Homo sapiens: one gene and its partners. The protein of the gene in region 1 purifies or fractionates together with the protein of each later gene. This does not show direct contact. Each region holds a gene or a part of one and is shown on either strand. Other genes may lie near its edges.

Region 1 (3,558 bases):
CGAATTTCCTTTACCACTTCCTGGGCTGATGTTCCAAAAACAACTGAGTTTTGGAGTATTTGAGGATTGTTTTGTTCTTCAAAGTTCACTTGGAAAGGATCTCCTGGGGGCTGCACATCAGAAGGACTCTCTTCAAAAAGTAGTGGAGAGATGGATCGTTCATGCTCACTCAGTTTATTAACTTCCTTTCCTGGATTATCTAAGTCATAAACAGGAAAATAACTCACCTTTATTTTAAGAAGTATATACTTCATAAGTTAGGTTTCCCTACATTATTTCTGAAGACAAAAACAAAAATCTAGTTTAGTTTAGTTTCTAGGATCCAAGATCAGAAATGCCATCATTTATCATTTAATGTTTTATAACCATTAAAGAGAACACTGATTATGAATTTTTCTTAAAAAGACTATTATCCATTTCCACAGTATAAATATTAAAAGGAAATATCTTATGTAAAACTCACTAATGTTCGTACCTAAATTAATTGAAATTCAGAATTAGGTTTCAGTTCACATTACCTTTTTCTTAAAAAAAAAAAAAGGAAATCTTTTCTTTATTCTTCTTTAGGAAGAAAAAGAATCTTCGAAAATTAGAATTTAGAATATAATAAACAATATATAATAATTATACTGAAAATAAGTTTTGTTTTTAGAAGGAAAAACACTTAACTTTTCTTCATTTATGGAAGAAACCTTTTAGATGTTAAAATAATCTGAATTTTCTTCTTTCAAATGCTGATTTTAATTTTGATTTGCTTGTTTATAAAGTATCACTTTGACTAAGGGCACATTTGTAATAAATAGAAATTACCTGTGAAAGTTATGCTTCTTTGAATATACAAATTCTGAAGGTCTGATTGGATAATCCAAGTTTAAGAAAAAGAGACGTTATTATTAATAGGCTATAAACTATTATTACAAAGTAAAGTAAAAATACCAGTCTGGTTATTGCCTCTTTATATTTATATTTTTCATAAATGGACTGTAAAATATTCTTAAATCTATACTGATACTAAAAATGTCTCCATGAACAAATCTATTAAAGCCTGTTTTCTTGGCTTAATGTAGAAGAAATACAATTTAAATGTATTTATAACAACCAAGGTTAGCAACAAAGCTTTCTGATCCCATCTCGTAATTTTATTACATATAAATATTTTCCAAATTAAGGTCAATACAGAAGAAAAAATTAAATTTCTAGTTTTAAGATGCATACGAATGTATATTACTTGAAAAATGTATTTGGCTGTTTAGGAAAAAATTTTAAAGATAATATAAAATAAATATGACAGACATCTGATTAATTTAAAAATTTAAAATATGTAGTGTGAAGTAAGTCATAGATGTTAATTCAGTCAGATGTTTTCCAAATCTGAATTCCCAGGGCACATACACAATAAGCTTATTTTCTTTCTCTCTTTTTTTTTTTTTTTTTTTAAGACAGGGTCTCCCTCTTGCCCAGGCTGGAGTATAGCTAGGACTACAGGCGCGAGCCATCACGCTTAGCTAATTTTATAATTTTTTGGTAAATATAGGGTTTCACAATCTTGCCCAGGGTGGTCTCAAACTCCTGGCCTCAACTGATCCTCCCACCTCAGCCTCCTAAAGTGCTAGGATTATAAATGTGAACCACCTTGCCTCGCCAATAAGCCTTATTTTCAAACTTACATTAGCTGATATTTATGTGCTTCAGTTCCTGTCATTTTTTAATATGCTGGTTTTAAAATGTAGAACAATTCAGAGGGGAAACAGGCCAGGCAAGGTGGCTCACGTCTGTAATCCCAGCACTTTGGGAAGCTGAGGTGGGAGGATCACCTGAGGTCAGGAGTTCGAGACCAGCCTGGCTAACATGGTGAAACCCCATCTCTACTAAAAATACAAAAATGAGCCAGGAATGGTGGCGCACAGCTACTCCGGAGGCTGGGGCAGGAGAATTACTTCAACCCAGGAGGCAGAGGTTGCAGTGAGCTGAGATTGTGCCACTGTACTCCAGCCTTGGTGACAGAGTGAGACTCCATCTCAAAAAAATAAAAAAAAATAAAAAAAAAATAAAGACTGTGAAACAATTGAAATGGTATCTACCTGGAGCCCTTTTCCCCATCTGGATGGGTAGAAGTCACGGTAAAGAAAGCTACAGAAAAACTGCAAACCAAGTAAGTTATCTGCCACATTCATAAACCCGTTCTGCAGAGTTTTTTATGCCATGTTTTGTACCTCATGCCTCTACCACCCTGCCCTCAGGTGAGCCACTGTGAGAGCAGAACTATACAGCAGGAAGTGAAGAATGCTGCCTTCTCACACATTATCAGAGCTGCTGCAGAATGTTCAGGTACCTTTTCAATCTGAACTACTTTCTACTTTTTTGTGAGGCCTGGCTGTGTAACTAAGAGCTGAAGTAGTTTCTTATTTGCTTTGTGACAGAAACATCTTTATAATCCCCATAACTAAGGTAATCAGAATGTAACACTAGGATTAAAGCATTTCATTTGGAAGACAAGTGCTAAAAAGTGTATGGTATTTCAGTTTCTTATATTATCTGGCACTCACCATCCAGATTTACATGGGAGAGTAAACATTTAAAAAATTATTATTTTATTTGTATGTAGAGATGGTAGTTAGCAATATATTTCCAAAGACAAACACCTTTTAGAAAATGGGGAAACAGCAAAACAATGTCTTGGACTTTAGAGGAAGATATATCAATTGCCTTCCACAGTTCCAATGCACTATTGACAATTTCCCATGGCATGATGTGAGGTGAGACACGCCTGAAAGTCCAGCCCACAGGTATTTACACATGAGAAGAAAAGTTTAACTATTCCAATTGTTTAAGAATATGAAAATACACGAAGAGGGCAATATACAAGTAAATATGTTAAAAGCAATAGATATTAAAAATTCACATATTCATAGTGAGTTTGGACATTATAATAAATGAAAAGAACATTAGTAGGCTGGGCGTGGTGGCTCATGCCTGTAATCCCAGCACTTTGGAAGGCCGAGGCGGGCAGATCACCTGAGGTCAGGAGTTTGAGACCAGCCTGGCCAACATGGTGAAACCCCACCTCTACTAAAAATACAAAAAATTAGTCGGGTGTGGTGGCACGCGCCTCTAATCCCAGATACTTGGGAGTCTAAGGCAGGAGAACTGCTTGAACCCAGGAGGCGGAGGTTGCAGTGAGCTGAGACTGCACCACTGCACTCCAGCCTGGGCAACACAGTGAGACCCTATCTCAAAAAAAAGAAAAAAATTAGTAGAAAATGAAAACATTTACTTTAATCCCAATGTAAAGCTTTTAAAACACATCATGCAAGTAATTGTTATGGGAGGCCCTCAGGGGATGCTTTGACATAATTATTTAATGATTTTCCCCCATTCTCTTGTGAAAGTAAGGAATTAATAAAGTAAGATTTTATACAAAGTGACATCAGGCTTTATGTTCCACATCCTCAAACAATAAAGTTACACCAAATAAGGAAAACCTTTTGCTCTGTGCCTGTGTCGAGAAATGATGATTATTGTTTAATGCTCCTATAAAAAAAAAGAGAGAGCTATCCC
Region 2 (4,032 bases), on another chromosome or scaffold:
ATGACTCTGGGTCCATGAAACCCTCCCATTTGTACGTAGCAGAGGAGCTTTCAAGCATGAAAGGAGCCTATGGGAGGGAGCAAAGGCACCAAAAGATCCCTCCCTCCCCCCAGGCACCCACAGGAAGAACCAGCAGGCCATGAGGTCCCACACCACCCATTCTGTAGTGTGGTTCCTTGAGAGATCAGGGCCACAGAAGACTTAGAAGCGCCTGAGCAGCTTGCCAGGAAGCAGCTAGGGACAGGTCTGACCCCTACATCCTGATGCTATTTCTTCTGGTTAGTGGAAATCCCTTCACCAACACCCTCCCAGTCTCTAAGACCCTTTCTTCAGACTCTCCCCTTCTCTGCCACTGCAGCTGGAGGTAAGATGTGGGGAAGAAAGGCTAGTCTTTTCTTAAATAAATCCCAGCTTTGGCTCAGTCCCCCTCCTGACAGTTGTTGGAACCCTCAGGTGGAGACCACCAAGGACTCTGGGGCACCAGGGACTAGAGGACAAGGTGACAGAAGGCATAAGGTACAGGCTACAGGCAGCTCTGGAAATGCCATGGTGGGAGGGGAGTCCCAGTGCCATCCTGCCCTCCCCTTCCCCCGCTCCACACTCACCATGCAGACAAATATGGCTGAGCTGGTCCACAAGTTCCAACAGGTTCATGACCTTCAAGCCCTTGAGGACAACTTTCACAGCCTCCTTTTCTCCATACTTTGAAATCAGTAATTCTGCCAGGTCCACCGGAATCAGGCCCTCCAACTCCCCTCTGGCCAGTGGGGGCTGGCCCTCAGACAGGGTCATATCCCGTAAGTAGAACTTTAACTTCTTGAAATCGTTCTCCTCAAGGTCACTCAAGGCCCAGAGCAATGCCTCCCGGGGCTTTCTGGCCTTGGCCATGGCCATGGTGATCTGGGGGAAGGATCAAGTCCAGACCAGAAGACCAGTGACCTGGAGAAAGAGGCAAAAGGAGAGGTCCACTGCTGAGAGGCCCACCCTGCTTTCTGGGGGCTTGGCCAAGTTATAGAGCGGAGGCCAGGGAGAGACGAGATACATGTGCAAAGCTCCAAGAAAGACAAGCAGATGAAACGCAGGGGAATTTTCCTAGTCATTCCCCTCTGCCTCTTAGTCAGGTGACACGTGACTGTGTTGGCAAATGGGTAGGAAGGTATGTAGGTGTGTTAATCTCTCAATCTCTCTCTCTCTCCCCCAAACTCTATCTCTGTCTCTCTCTCTCCCCCCACTCCCTTCCTCTTTCCCTCTCAACACGTTCTTTATTAGGCTCTGTATGCCTCCTTAGACGGATGGATTAAGAAAAAAAAGTCTAAGTTTTTTATTTTATTTTTTTTGGAGACAGAGTCTACCTCTGTTGCCCAGGCTGGGGAGCAGTGGCATGATCTCGGCTCACCTCAACCTCCACATCCCACGTTCAAGCAATTCTCCTGCCTCAGCCTCCCAAGTAGCTGGAATTGCAGGTGCCCACCACCATGCCCAGCTCACTTTTGTATTTTTAGTAGAGATGGGGTTTCACCATACGGGCCCGGCTAGACTCGATCTCCTGACCTCAGGTGATCTGCCCGCCTTGGCTTCCCAAAGTGCTGGGATTACAGGCATGAGCTACTGTGCCCGGCCAAGTTTTAAGTTTTAAAAGTGAGACTGTCCCTGGCTGTGTGAACCTATAGAAAGCTGGAGCACATTTGCTGGAACTGCTGTGGTATGGCAAGAAGGTAAAAAAAATCTACACTCAACCCATTGGCCTCACATGTCAGCCTCCTGGCCTCAGTCACACAGGGATTGCAAAGCTAGAAGTCTCCTAATTCAAATAAGGAAACAAATCCAGATAATGATAGGAAGAGGAACCGCCACCTGTGAGTGCTGACTTTGTGCCAGGTGATTTACATATCCTTTTTGATCATCTCAGAAATCGTCTCAGGAACTGTTCCACATGAGAAATTTGGCAGTCAGAGAAAAATGGTTTTTCAGAGTTTTCCAGAGCTAGGCCACCGGGCAAAGAGGCAGGATTTAAACTGGTCTATGCCCTGGGTGGAAGAGAGAGACAGAAAAAACTCAAAAGATAAAGAAATAGAAGACAGAGTCAGGAACCAGAAAGTTAGGCTAAATGTTGCCAGAAGCTGGAGACATGTATAAATACTAAAGTAACGGGAAAGGAGAGCAGAGTTTTGAATTGTGTTTCTAATGTAGAACCAAAATGTAGGCCAGGTGGCAGTCTTTGGAAAAGAAAAGCAACAATTAATAGAAAGCCTTCAGAATCCAGAAATACACCTGTGACCTAAGGCCCATAGGGAACCCATCTCAGTAGTACAATGTCACATTCATCATTGAGAGTGTTCAAAAGAGAATTTGGGAACACAGAGAGTTGTTGCCATTCAAATACCAACATTTTGACTACATACTGACAGAGAAAGAAAATGTTTGGAACATGTTAGGATACAGGGGACTTTGGTTGTGAGTCATAGGCCAGTTTGGAAAAGCAGGCCTGTGAAAGCAGGATCAATTTACAACAAAGCTTCAGGCTGCATGGGAAGACTCAGGGCTTCCCTGCAAATTTCTGATGTTGGCAGAGCTATTTAATAATTCAGGAAAGAAAAGACAACACTAGAACCTGCCAAGAAGATGTCCAGTCTAGGCTGCTTACCACAGTTCAGACTTGGGGAGCTGGAGGTGAGGCAGCGAGAACTCAGCTCCCTGATCCAGGAGCCCAGTAAGCAAAGCCTGGGGACTGAGACGAAACAGATCCCCTTTCCTGGTCCGACAGCTCTACAGGTCCAAGTTTGGGCTCTCTTAGCCCATACTCACTAGTTCACTTCTGTTTGGTGGTGCTGGTACCTACCAGCTACAGCTTGATACCTAACAGTTCCTAGTATATAGGCCTGGAACAGAAGGGCCCCTCCCCATCTGCCCCAAGCCTCTGTGAAGCAGAACCACCCACTGAATGTCAGTGGGATGACTGTCAATGGGATGGGCAATTGCTCACCAGTGGGAAACTTGACCTCATTTTTTCAAATGTTGAAGTTGAGAAACAAGGGAGGGGTGGAAGGCATGAACTATTCTGTCACCAAGAGAAAAAGAGCCCAGGAGACTTCCCACATCCCTCCCTGGAACCCACACTCCTCCTCTACCACTTAACCCCAGCCTAGGCTGGGGCAGTTTGACTAGAGAGACGAAAGAATTGAAGCACTGCCACCACCATATCCTCCGCCAGTGCACCATTTCTCTAAGTTGTTGAAATCACTGGAGAATGAAAAAGGAAGAAGATAGGAGCTCCATGAAGTAGGAATTCAAACAAGGAGAAAAACAGGCCAGGCATGGTGGTTCACGCCTGTAATCCCAGCACTTTGGGAGGCTGAGGTGCGTGGATCATTTGATGTCAGGAGTTTGAGACCAGCCTGATCAACATGGTGAAACCCTGTCTCTACTAAAAATACGCAAATTAGCCGGGAATCATGGTGCATGCCTGTAATCTCAGCTACTAGGGAGGCTGAGGCAGGAAAATTGCTTGAACCCAGGAGGCGGAGGTTGCAGCGAGCTGAGATTGTGCCACTGCACTCCAACCTGGGCAACAAAGTAAGACTTTGTCTCAAAAAAACAAAAAAGAAAAAGGAGAAAAACAAATTCCCAGAAGGCAGCCAGTCCTCTGGCCTAGAGAGCTGAGGATCCCCAAGAGCCCTGACAGAAAGAGAACAGGTTTCTCCAAAAAGAATGTCTCCAAGAAAAAAGAAAAAAGACTTGCTAGACTAGCTGATGCTATTGGCCTTCTAAAACAGCCTATTGGGAGGCTATTAGAAGGTGGAAAAAGCTAGCAGTAACTTCCAAGAAAACCAGATAAATGAAAGTAAAATAAAGAAATTACTAGCAAGAGGAGAAACAAAAAATAAAATTGGAAATATAATAGTAAACTAATATACTCAAGTGTGAATAATGTTTGCATAGAAATCATAGTGTAACCACTGAACATTGCTCTAAAATTTAAAATATAATTACATTGAAAGGATGGTGGTGGAATGTACTAGAAGAGGAAGTTGA
Region 3 (3,097 bases), about 75 Mb from region 1:
AGTAGAGACGGGATTTCACCTTGTTAGCCAGGATGGTCTCGATCTCCTGACCTCGTGATCTGCCCGCCTCAGCCTCCCAAAGTGCTGGGATTACAGGTGTGAGCCACCGCACCTGGCCATTTTTGTTTTTTAAAAAACTTTTACTTAAACAGAGACAAGGTCTTGTTAGGTTTTCCAGTCTTGTCTCAAACTCCTGGCCTCAAATCATCCTCTCACCTCGGCCTCCTAAAGCGCTGGGATTACAGGTGTGAGCGATCATGCCCAGTCAGAGTTAGAGGAGTTTTGCTGTACAGGGAGTGGAGAAATGGAGTGGCAGCTGAAGAGGAGAGTGAGGCCAATTTCTTTTTTAAGATGAGAGAAATCACATGCTAATGGAAAAGGGAAGGAGGGAGCTGCCGATGCTATCTGTGAATAGGTAAGAGGATGAGCTTCAGTGTTAAGAGGTGGGGCTGGGTTCCAACAGGAAGAGTATGAATAATTCATCTAAGTAAGAGGAGGGAAGGAACAGTTATGAAGGTACAGATGAAGGTGATGAGTGGCCACTGGTGGAGTCAGACCACTGTGTATATTGTAAAGGATATCTTTAGAAGCAATGACCCAGGATAAAAACTGGTAGAGGTCTAACAACATTTATATAATGGTTCTGTGAATATGTATATAAGAAGCTCAAAGCAACATCTACTTATATATTATGGTGAACTAACCTGCTAAGAGATTTTAGATTACTTCATTTAAGGAATGGAAGGGAGCATGCCCCACCAACTCTCTTAGCCAACTCTCTTAACTTCACGCTTGTCTTTTGGCTCTGAGCCATGCTACTTAGTATCTACATGAGAGCAAACAAAAGACACGCTCAAGCTTTGTCTGCTTTATTTCACTACATTAAGTTAAGCAATAAGGCAAAACAGTAACCTGTCATTCATAAAGATCAAGGAGTACCTCTCTGTCCCAAAAGGGACCAAAAAGGGTGTTTCTTCACAAATATGCATGACACTTAGCTCATTATGCTGATAAGCACTTCAAACAAAAGAAAAGGTCAGTAGGTGAATCAAGTAACAAATCCAAATTAACTTAGCCTAAGTTTCCAAAGCTGTAGTTTCAAGTGCTAATGGGATCTAACTTTCCTGTGGTGGTGCATACTGACTAGCATTAAAATTTTTGCACCTCATCTAATATAAAAAAGGCAACAAATACAATTCCTAATTCACCAGCTGCAGGTATTGAATCATTTCTACGAACACACAGAATACTAGCTTACACTAAAACCTATCTTGAGGAAACATTAAACCAGTGGCTCTATTATTCTGCAAGTTAGTTTGGCTTCTGAAGAAAAAAGTTTATGATCAAAGTGTTTTGTGTTTCTGTGTATGGGAATGATGAGACCCATACTTCAACATTATTACTTTGGGGAATAAATACCAGCTACCTGCCATAAACGCATGACATGTGTGTAGTCTATGCAAACGTGTAAACATATGAAGCTATTCTCTACTCTATGCCCATTTCCTCCACTGGCAAATATGGAGCAGTGATTTCACAGTAGGCTCTAGCAGGTAGTGAAATAAAAATTTGAGACTCTGTGGGGTCACAAAAAAATGAAACTCTTTCTATAGTCTGCAAATCTGTAATTACCCATCCCCCTGCTCCAACTCCTAAGAGGCTAAATGTTATTACCATAATGTTAGAGATGAGTATTTTCCTTCTTACACTGCATCACATATATTACTCTGTAGGACTGTTTCATAAAATTGGCTTGACCTTTGTACAATTAGTACAATTTAGTGTCTTTTAGAGTACAATTTAGTGTCTTTTAAAAGCTTCCTAAATATTTAAAACATTTTCAAGGGAAGCTTACAAGGACTATGTCCCATCTGTATTCTACATTATAATGTTATCTTTAATTTTTTAAGACTTAAAACAAGACCAAGGTAAACAAAAAATCTGTATTTTCCTCAAGTCTCTTGGCCACTTACTAACAATACTTTTACAGAAAACACGGTGCAGCTGGTGGTCTACTTTATCAAGTTTCATTTTAGAAAACATCATAGAAATTAAGGTTAGCAACCCAACTCCAGGATACCAAGTGAAAACAGCAAGTCTGCTGTTAGGCCAGAACTGTGGGCTACTTGCTGAACTATTTTATGGTTTACAATCAAAATGGTCTTATTTGACTCACCACATGACAAAAGTCTTAAACTTAGTAAGGGGGAAAGTTCTTAATATCCAGTTTTGGATTCAAGAGATTATAATAGTTAATTTCCCCTTCAAATCAATGGAAAGAATGCTAGTTGAGAATATTCTAAAAATCTAGCCTTTAAAATGTTTTCTGCATTCCAGAAATGAACCTGTCCACTCAGGTTTTCTTTGGGTTCTTTTCCAGGTCCCAAACAGAACAACTTAACTGAGTTAAAGAGGCAGAACAGGGAAGGGGTAGGAAGTAAGACAAATAAAGATTGCCCCCCTGTGGCAGCATTAATCCCTGGGTATTGTGGCAATATTGAAAACGAATGGAATCTGCTACCCCCTTGACATGACATGTAATTGTTTGCTTCTCAAATTCTTCTTAAAAGATCCATATTTTACTGGGAAAAAAATTAAGAACAACTAATACGTGTCCTGTATTCACTTAGAAAAAGAGGGCAAATGAGAGTGCCTTAACAACTTCACAGGTTTTTCCAATCATCATGATACTAAAGATAAAGTGACAATTCAGTTTTTCAGTTATATGGAAATCTATGGCAAAATGGCAGCCATTATGGCAATGAAGGGATATGTTTTAGACTGTTAGATGATATTTAACGGAATGCAGAAAGCAGTTGGTACATTGTGACCAATGCTGGATCATTAACAGCAGGTCTACCTTTGGGTTATCATTTAAGTTTCATCTGTGACATTGTGATCCTTAGTGAGATCAGATCAAGAGACAGTACAGAGTTTCTCAGGTGGTAAATACAATGCCATTCCAAGGAACACCCATCCCCTTTCCTAGGATGGAATTATGCTGCTGTTACTCAACGTGCAGGGTTCAGTGAGGGAGACACAGACTTACTGGTGTCAACAGGGGTGAGAGCAAGAGCAACAGCAGCTACCCTGTGTT
Region 4 (3,558 bases), on another chromosome or scaffold:
GCACCCAAGTCCCTGCCACAAACCAGGTGCTGCATCCACCAGGCCAGTGCTCCACATGGCTGCCTGCCCCAGTACCAAAGCCGCCTTCTCTTCTGCAGCTGAGGCCTGCTTTTTTCACTGACTCAAGACACTGGACAATCAGTCCTAACTCAGTCATCCCTCAGTCCAGGAAGTACTTACATTTCCTTCTTTTTTGAAAAATCAAGTTCACAACTATGCTAGGAAGTACAGAAAAACAGGGAAGATGTGATTACCTGCTGGCTGGAAGAGACAGGCATAAGATGCAAGGGAGCCTGGTATGGGGAGAATTATGCTACGAAAAGGGGTAAGCCAAAGCCCAGCACCATTTTGCAACCCTAAATATGGATCTAGGCAATGGCCATCAACAGACGCTAAAACCTCAAGATGGAGGAGCAGTGGAAACCTATCAGGGAAGAGGCAGGCTGCCACCACTGGGGCCCCTCATCCATCCTCCCATCAGCAAAGGTGGGGCCACCAGACCTCACATGCCTCCTGAAGGCATCTAAGAGGAGGTTCACAGTGCCACATGCAGGCATCTCTGCCACACGCAGCTCAGCCGGGATCTAATTGAGCGGTTGGACTCATCGCCAGCTTACAGCAAGTGCACGAAACACAGGCACAGGTTAAACACCGCTGTGAGCAAGCAATGAGGCAAATACATCATATGGACTATTCGACAGGACAAATGACCTGGCTGCTCCAATAAATCAATGTCATGAAAAAAAGCGTGGGGTGGAGCCTGTTCTAGAATGAAACAGTTAACACACATAAGCAGTTGCAATGCCTGGATCCTAATTCAAGCAAATCGATCATAAGAAGTTATCTTTGAGATAAATGGAGAAATCCAAATGCGGACTGGAGACTTAGGTGACATTAAGTATTCATTTTTTTATGAGTGATAACGGCACAGAGGTTATATTTAAAATTTTAAGTCCTTTTAGTCAGAGACACATACTCAAGTATTTATGGATGAATAATGTATGAGATAAGCTTTAAAATATTCCAGAAAAAAAAAATGGATGTGTGTGGAGTGGGGTAGGAATAGTGAAATTGAACAAACGTTGACAATTATAGAGGCAAGGCAACGAATTCATGGTGGCCTGTTGTACTGTTTTTCCCACTTTCATGAATATTTGGACTTTTCAATAATGAGTTTTTTGGTTTTGTTTTTAAAGGCTCAGCCTACCAAACAACTGGAGTGGGTGGTGGGGAATCAGACAGACCCAGCCTGCTGGATCACAGCCTTTATGTTTGCAGAGAGAAGTAAGTGGGTTGGATGACCGCAAGTCTTCAATACCAAGCGGAGGGAACACCGACCCCACAGGCAAACAGCACCCCTGCGAAGAGCACAGAATCCTCACCTGCCGTGACTTGCCCGCCTGTTTCACGCTATAGAACATGGGGCCCAGCTCCGCCAGCCACTCCCCGTCCACAGCGGTCACACACTGCATATACTCCTGCGGGCAGAAGGGCAGGGAGGCGAGGGTCACAGGAGGGCCAATGTCCCTCCCAGAGTGGTTCCACAATTAGGAGCCACATGGGAAGGGCCCAATCCCTGGCCCTGCAAGGCTGAAAAAAGGAAAGGAAAAACCCCAGATACTCCCATCCAAACTCCTCCACACTTGAGAAAATGCCCCCAGTATCTAAAAGAAAAGGCCCAACCCCTCCGAAAATCCTTCTAATGACACCAAGAGGGGTTGCTCATCCCAAGCAGCAAGTGGGGAACAATCGTGCCCATGCAGCTGAGGTCAATGCAGTCTAGAGGTCAACCCTGTGCAGAGCTTCCCCAAGTCCCCAAATGAAAACCAACCTCACATGCCCCGCAAAACAATGCATGTGGCCTCAAGGCTCCCAGGCTAAAAGCTCATGCCAGAACGCAGTGAAGGGTTTCAAAGCCTGGCCAGACAGGGGGCCTGCATTATGCAAGTGCCTTGGAAAAGACTCACCTTGGTGGTCATGACCAACTCGTGATACACTATGTAATCTGGGGTGTAGCCCATTCCAAAAAGGGAGCTGGTGGGGTGCAAGTGGCAGGGCATCCCTGTGCGGATGTTCACGTACTCCCCGATTCCCTAGGGAGGAGACACAACAGGCAGCCACATCAGGAAAACAACACCCATTTGGGCAGCGACCCCATCCCTTAACACTCTTGACACAGCCTTTGGCGGAAGCCCAGATCTGCAGAACCACACCAGGACAAAGGAAGAACTTTGCCCTTATACAGGTATCAGGCTGGGAGGGGCTCACTGGGCTCCTGGGTTCACCTTGAGCTTGGCTGCTTGGTGGAAATAGGCAGCACAGATGCACTTCCTGACGATGTCCCAGTCAGTGCCACACGAGGCCAGGCTCATCCGCTGCTGCACCATGATGTCCTTGAGTTGAGCTCGCACCTCCCGGACCTAGGGCAGGAGACGGAGGCACCAGGAGGGAGCCCTCCTTTCCTCTCGACCCTCCCCTCATCCCAACATCCTGCTCATCCACCACTCTACCTTCCGCATGGCCTTAGCATGGATGAAATGATCGTTACACCAGATGGTGGAGTAATTATTGTTCTTCCACTGCAGGTAAACATTCAGGTAGGTCAAATGATCGCTCTCAGGAACAGCGAACTTCTCCCGGATTTGATCACTCTCCTCCTCTCGACCCTAGGAAGGGAAAAAGAACCTTCACTCTAAGTACAGGGGGGTCCAGGCCCACTGAGCACATCCCAGAGGTTCTAACACTACCACCTACCCACACATAGAACTTCAAACATGTCAATAGGTTGCCCTGACAATTTGAGAAAAATTAAAATAATTTTTAAAAAGGTCTACTCTAAAACATGAGGGCTCAAGAGCAACCATACTAGAAGATAAAAAATGCTCTTGCAAATTTCCAAAGCATTCCCTGAGAACCACTGGCCCAGCCCTTCCTTTCCCCTACCCCAACCTGCTTAACCGAGAACAGCAAAATCATTCTTCAGAAACTCTGATTCTGCCCTCTGTTCCATTTCAGTAATACAGAGAGAAGCCATTCCCCTCCCCAACACTTCCTCGAGCCCTCCGGGGAGAGGGGAGCCAGCCGCTGCCCCACCTTGGGCCTGTAGAAGATGGCTGGGACCGAGAGCATGGAAACGATGAGCAGGATCTCGGAGCTGCAGCCCATGTCACAGGACACGATGAGCATCTTGGACAGGGCAGGGTCCAGCGGGAACTCCACCATCAGCCGCCCGGTAGAGGTCAGACCACCTAGGAGAGATGAGCAAACCCGGATATTTGACGGGACAGTAGAGGAAAGAAGGAAGTCAAGCGCCAGCACCCATGAGGCTCCCGGGGCCGCCTCACCTGTGTTGTCCAGGGCCCCGAGGATCCAGAGCTGATACATAGAGTTGAGCATGTTGTCCTCCGGGGGCGGGTCCATGAAGTGGAACTGCAGCAGGTCCTGCACCCCGAGGGACTTGAGCAGCAGCACCACGTTGGCCAGGTTAGTCCTCTGGATCTCGGGCACTGTGGTGGTCAGGAGCTCATTCTTGTAGGCGCTCTGGGTGTAGAGCCTGCC

The links.
Region 2: the proteins of POLK (region 1) and NLRP10 purify together in Homo sapiens (affinity purification with mass spectrometry, with the first as the bait; one large-scale study listed by BioGRID). This does not show direct contact.
Region 3: the proteins of POLK (region 1) and DCTN4 purify together in Homo sapiens (affinity purification with mass spectrometry, with the first as the bait; one large-scale study listed by BioGRID). This does not show direct contact.
Region 4: the proteins of POLK (region 1) and DHX38 purify together in Homo sapiens (affinity purification with mass spectrometry, with the first as the bait; one large-scale study listed by BioGRID). This does not show direct contact.

Annotation. Positions count from the first base shown.
Region 1 is NC_000005.10:75,577,850-75,581,407, reverse strand, and holds part of POLK (DNA polymerase kappa), read right to left. Parts: intron 853-3,558; coding exon of another isoform or gene 811-852; intron 200-810; coding exon 1-199. UniProt on the Homo sapiens protein: DNA polymerase specifically involved in DNA repair. Plays an important role in translesion synthesis, where the normal high-fidelity DNA polymerases cannot proceed and DNA synthesis stalls.
Region 2 is NC_000011.10:7,962,602-7,966,633, forward strand, and holds the start of NLRP10 (NACHT, LRR and PYD domains-containing protein 10), read right to left. Parts: upstream 2,847-4,032; 5' UTR 2,645-2,846; intron 1,074-2,644; exon of another isoform or gene 940-1,073; 5' UTR 895-939; coding exon 606-894; intron 1-605.
Region 3 is NC_000005.10:150,707,894-150,710,990, forward strand, and holds the end of DCTN4 (dynactin subunit 4), read right to left. Parts: 3' UTR 547-3,097; downstream 1-546. UniProt on the Homo sapiens protein: Part of the dynactin complex that activates the molecular motor dynein for ultra-processive transport along microtubules.
Region 4 is NC_000016.10:72,107,335-72,110,892, reverse strand, and holds part of DHX38 (pre-mRNA-splicing factor ATP-dependent RNA helicase PRP16), read right to left. Parts: intron 3,554-3,558; coding exon 3,345-3,553; intron 3,249-3,344; coding exon 3,094-3,248; intron 2,667-3,093; coding exon 2,511-2,666; intron 2,421-2,510; coding exon 2,286-2,420; intron 2,094-2,285; coding exon 1,968-2,093; intron 1,479-1,967; coding exon 1,383-1,478; intron 1-1,382. UniProt on the Homo sapiens protein: Probable ATP-binding RNA helicase. Involved in pre-mRNA splicing as component of the spliceosome.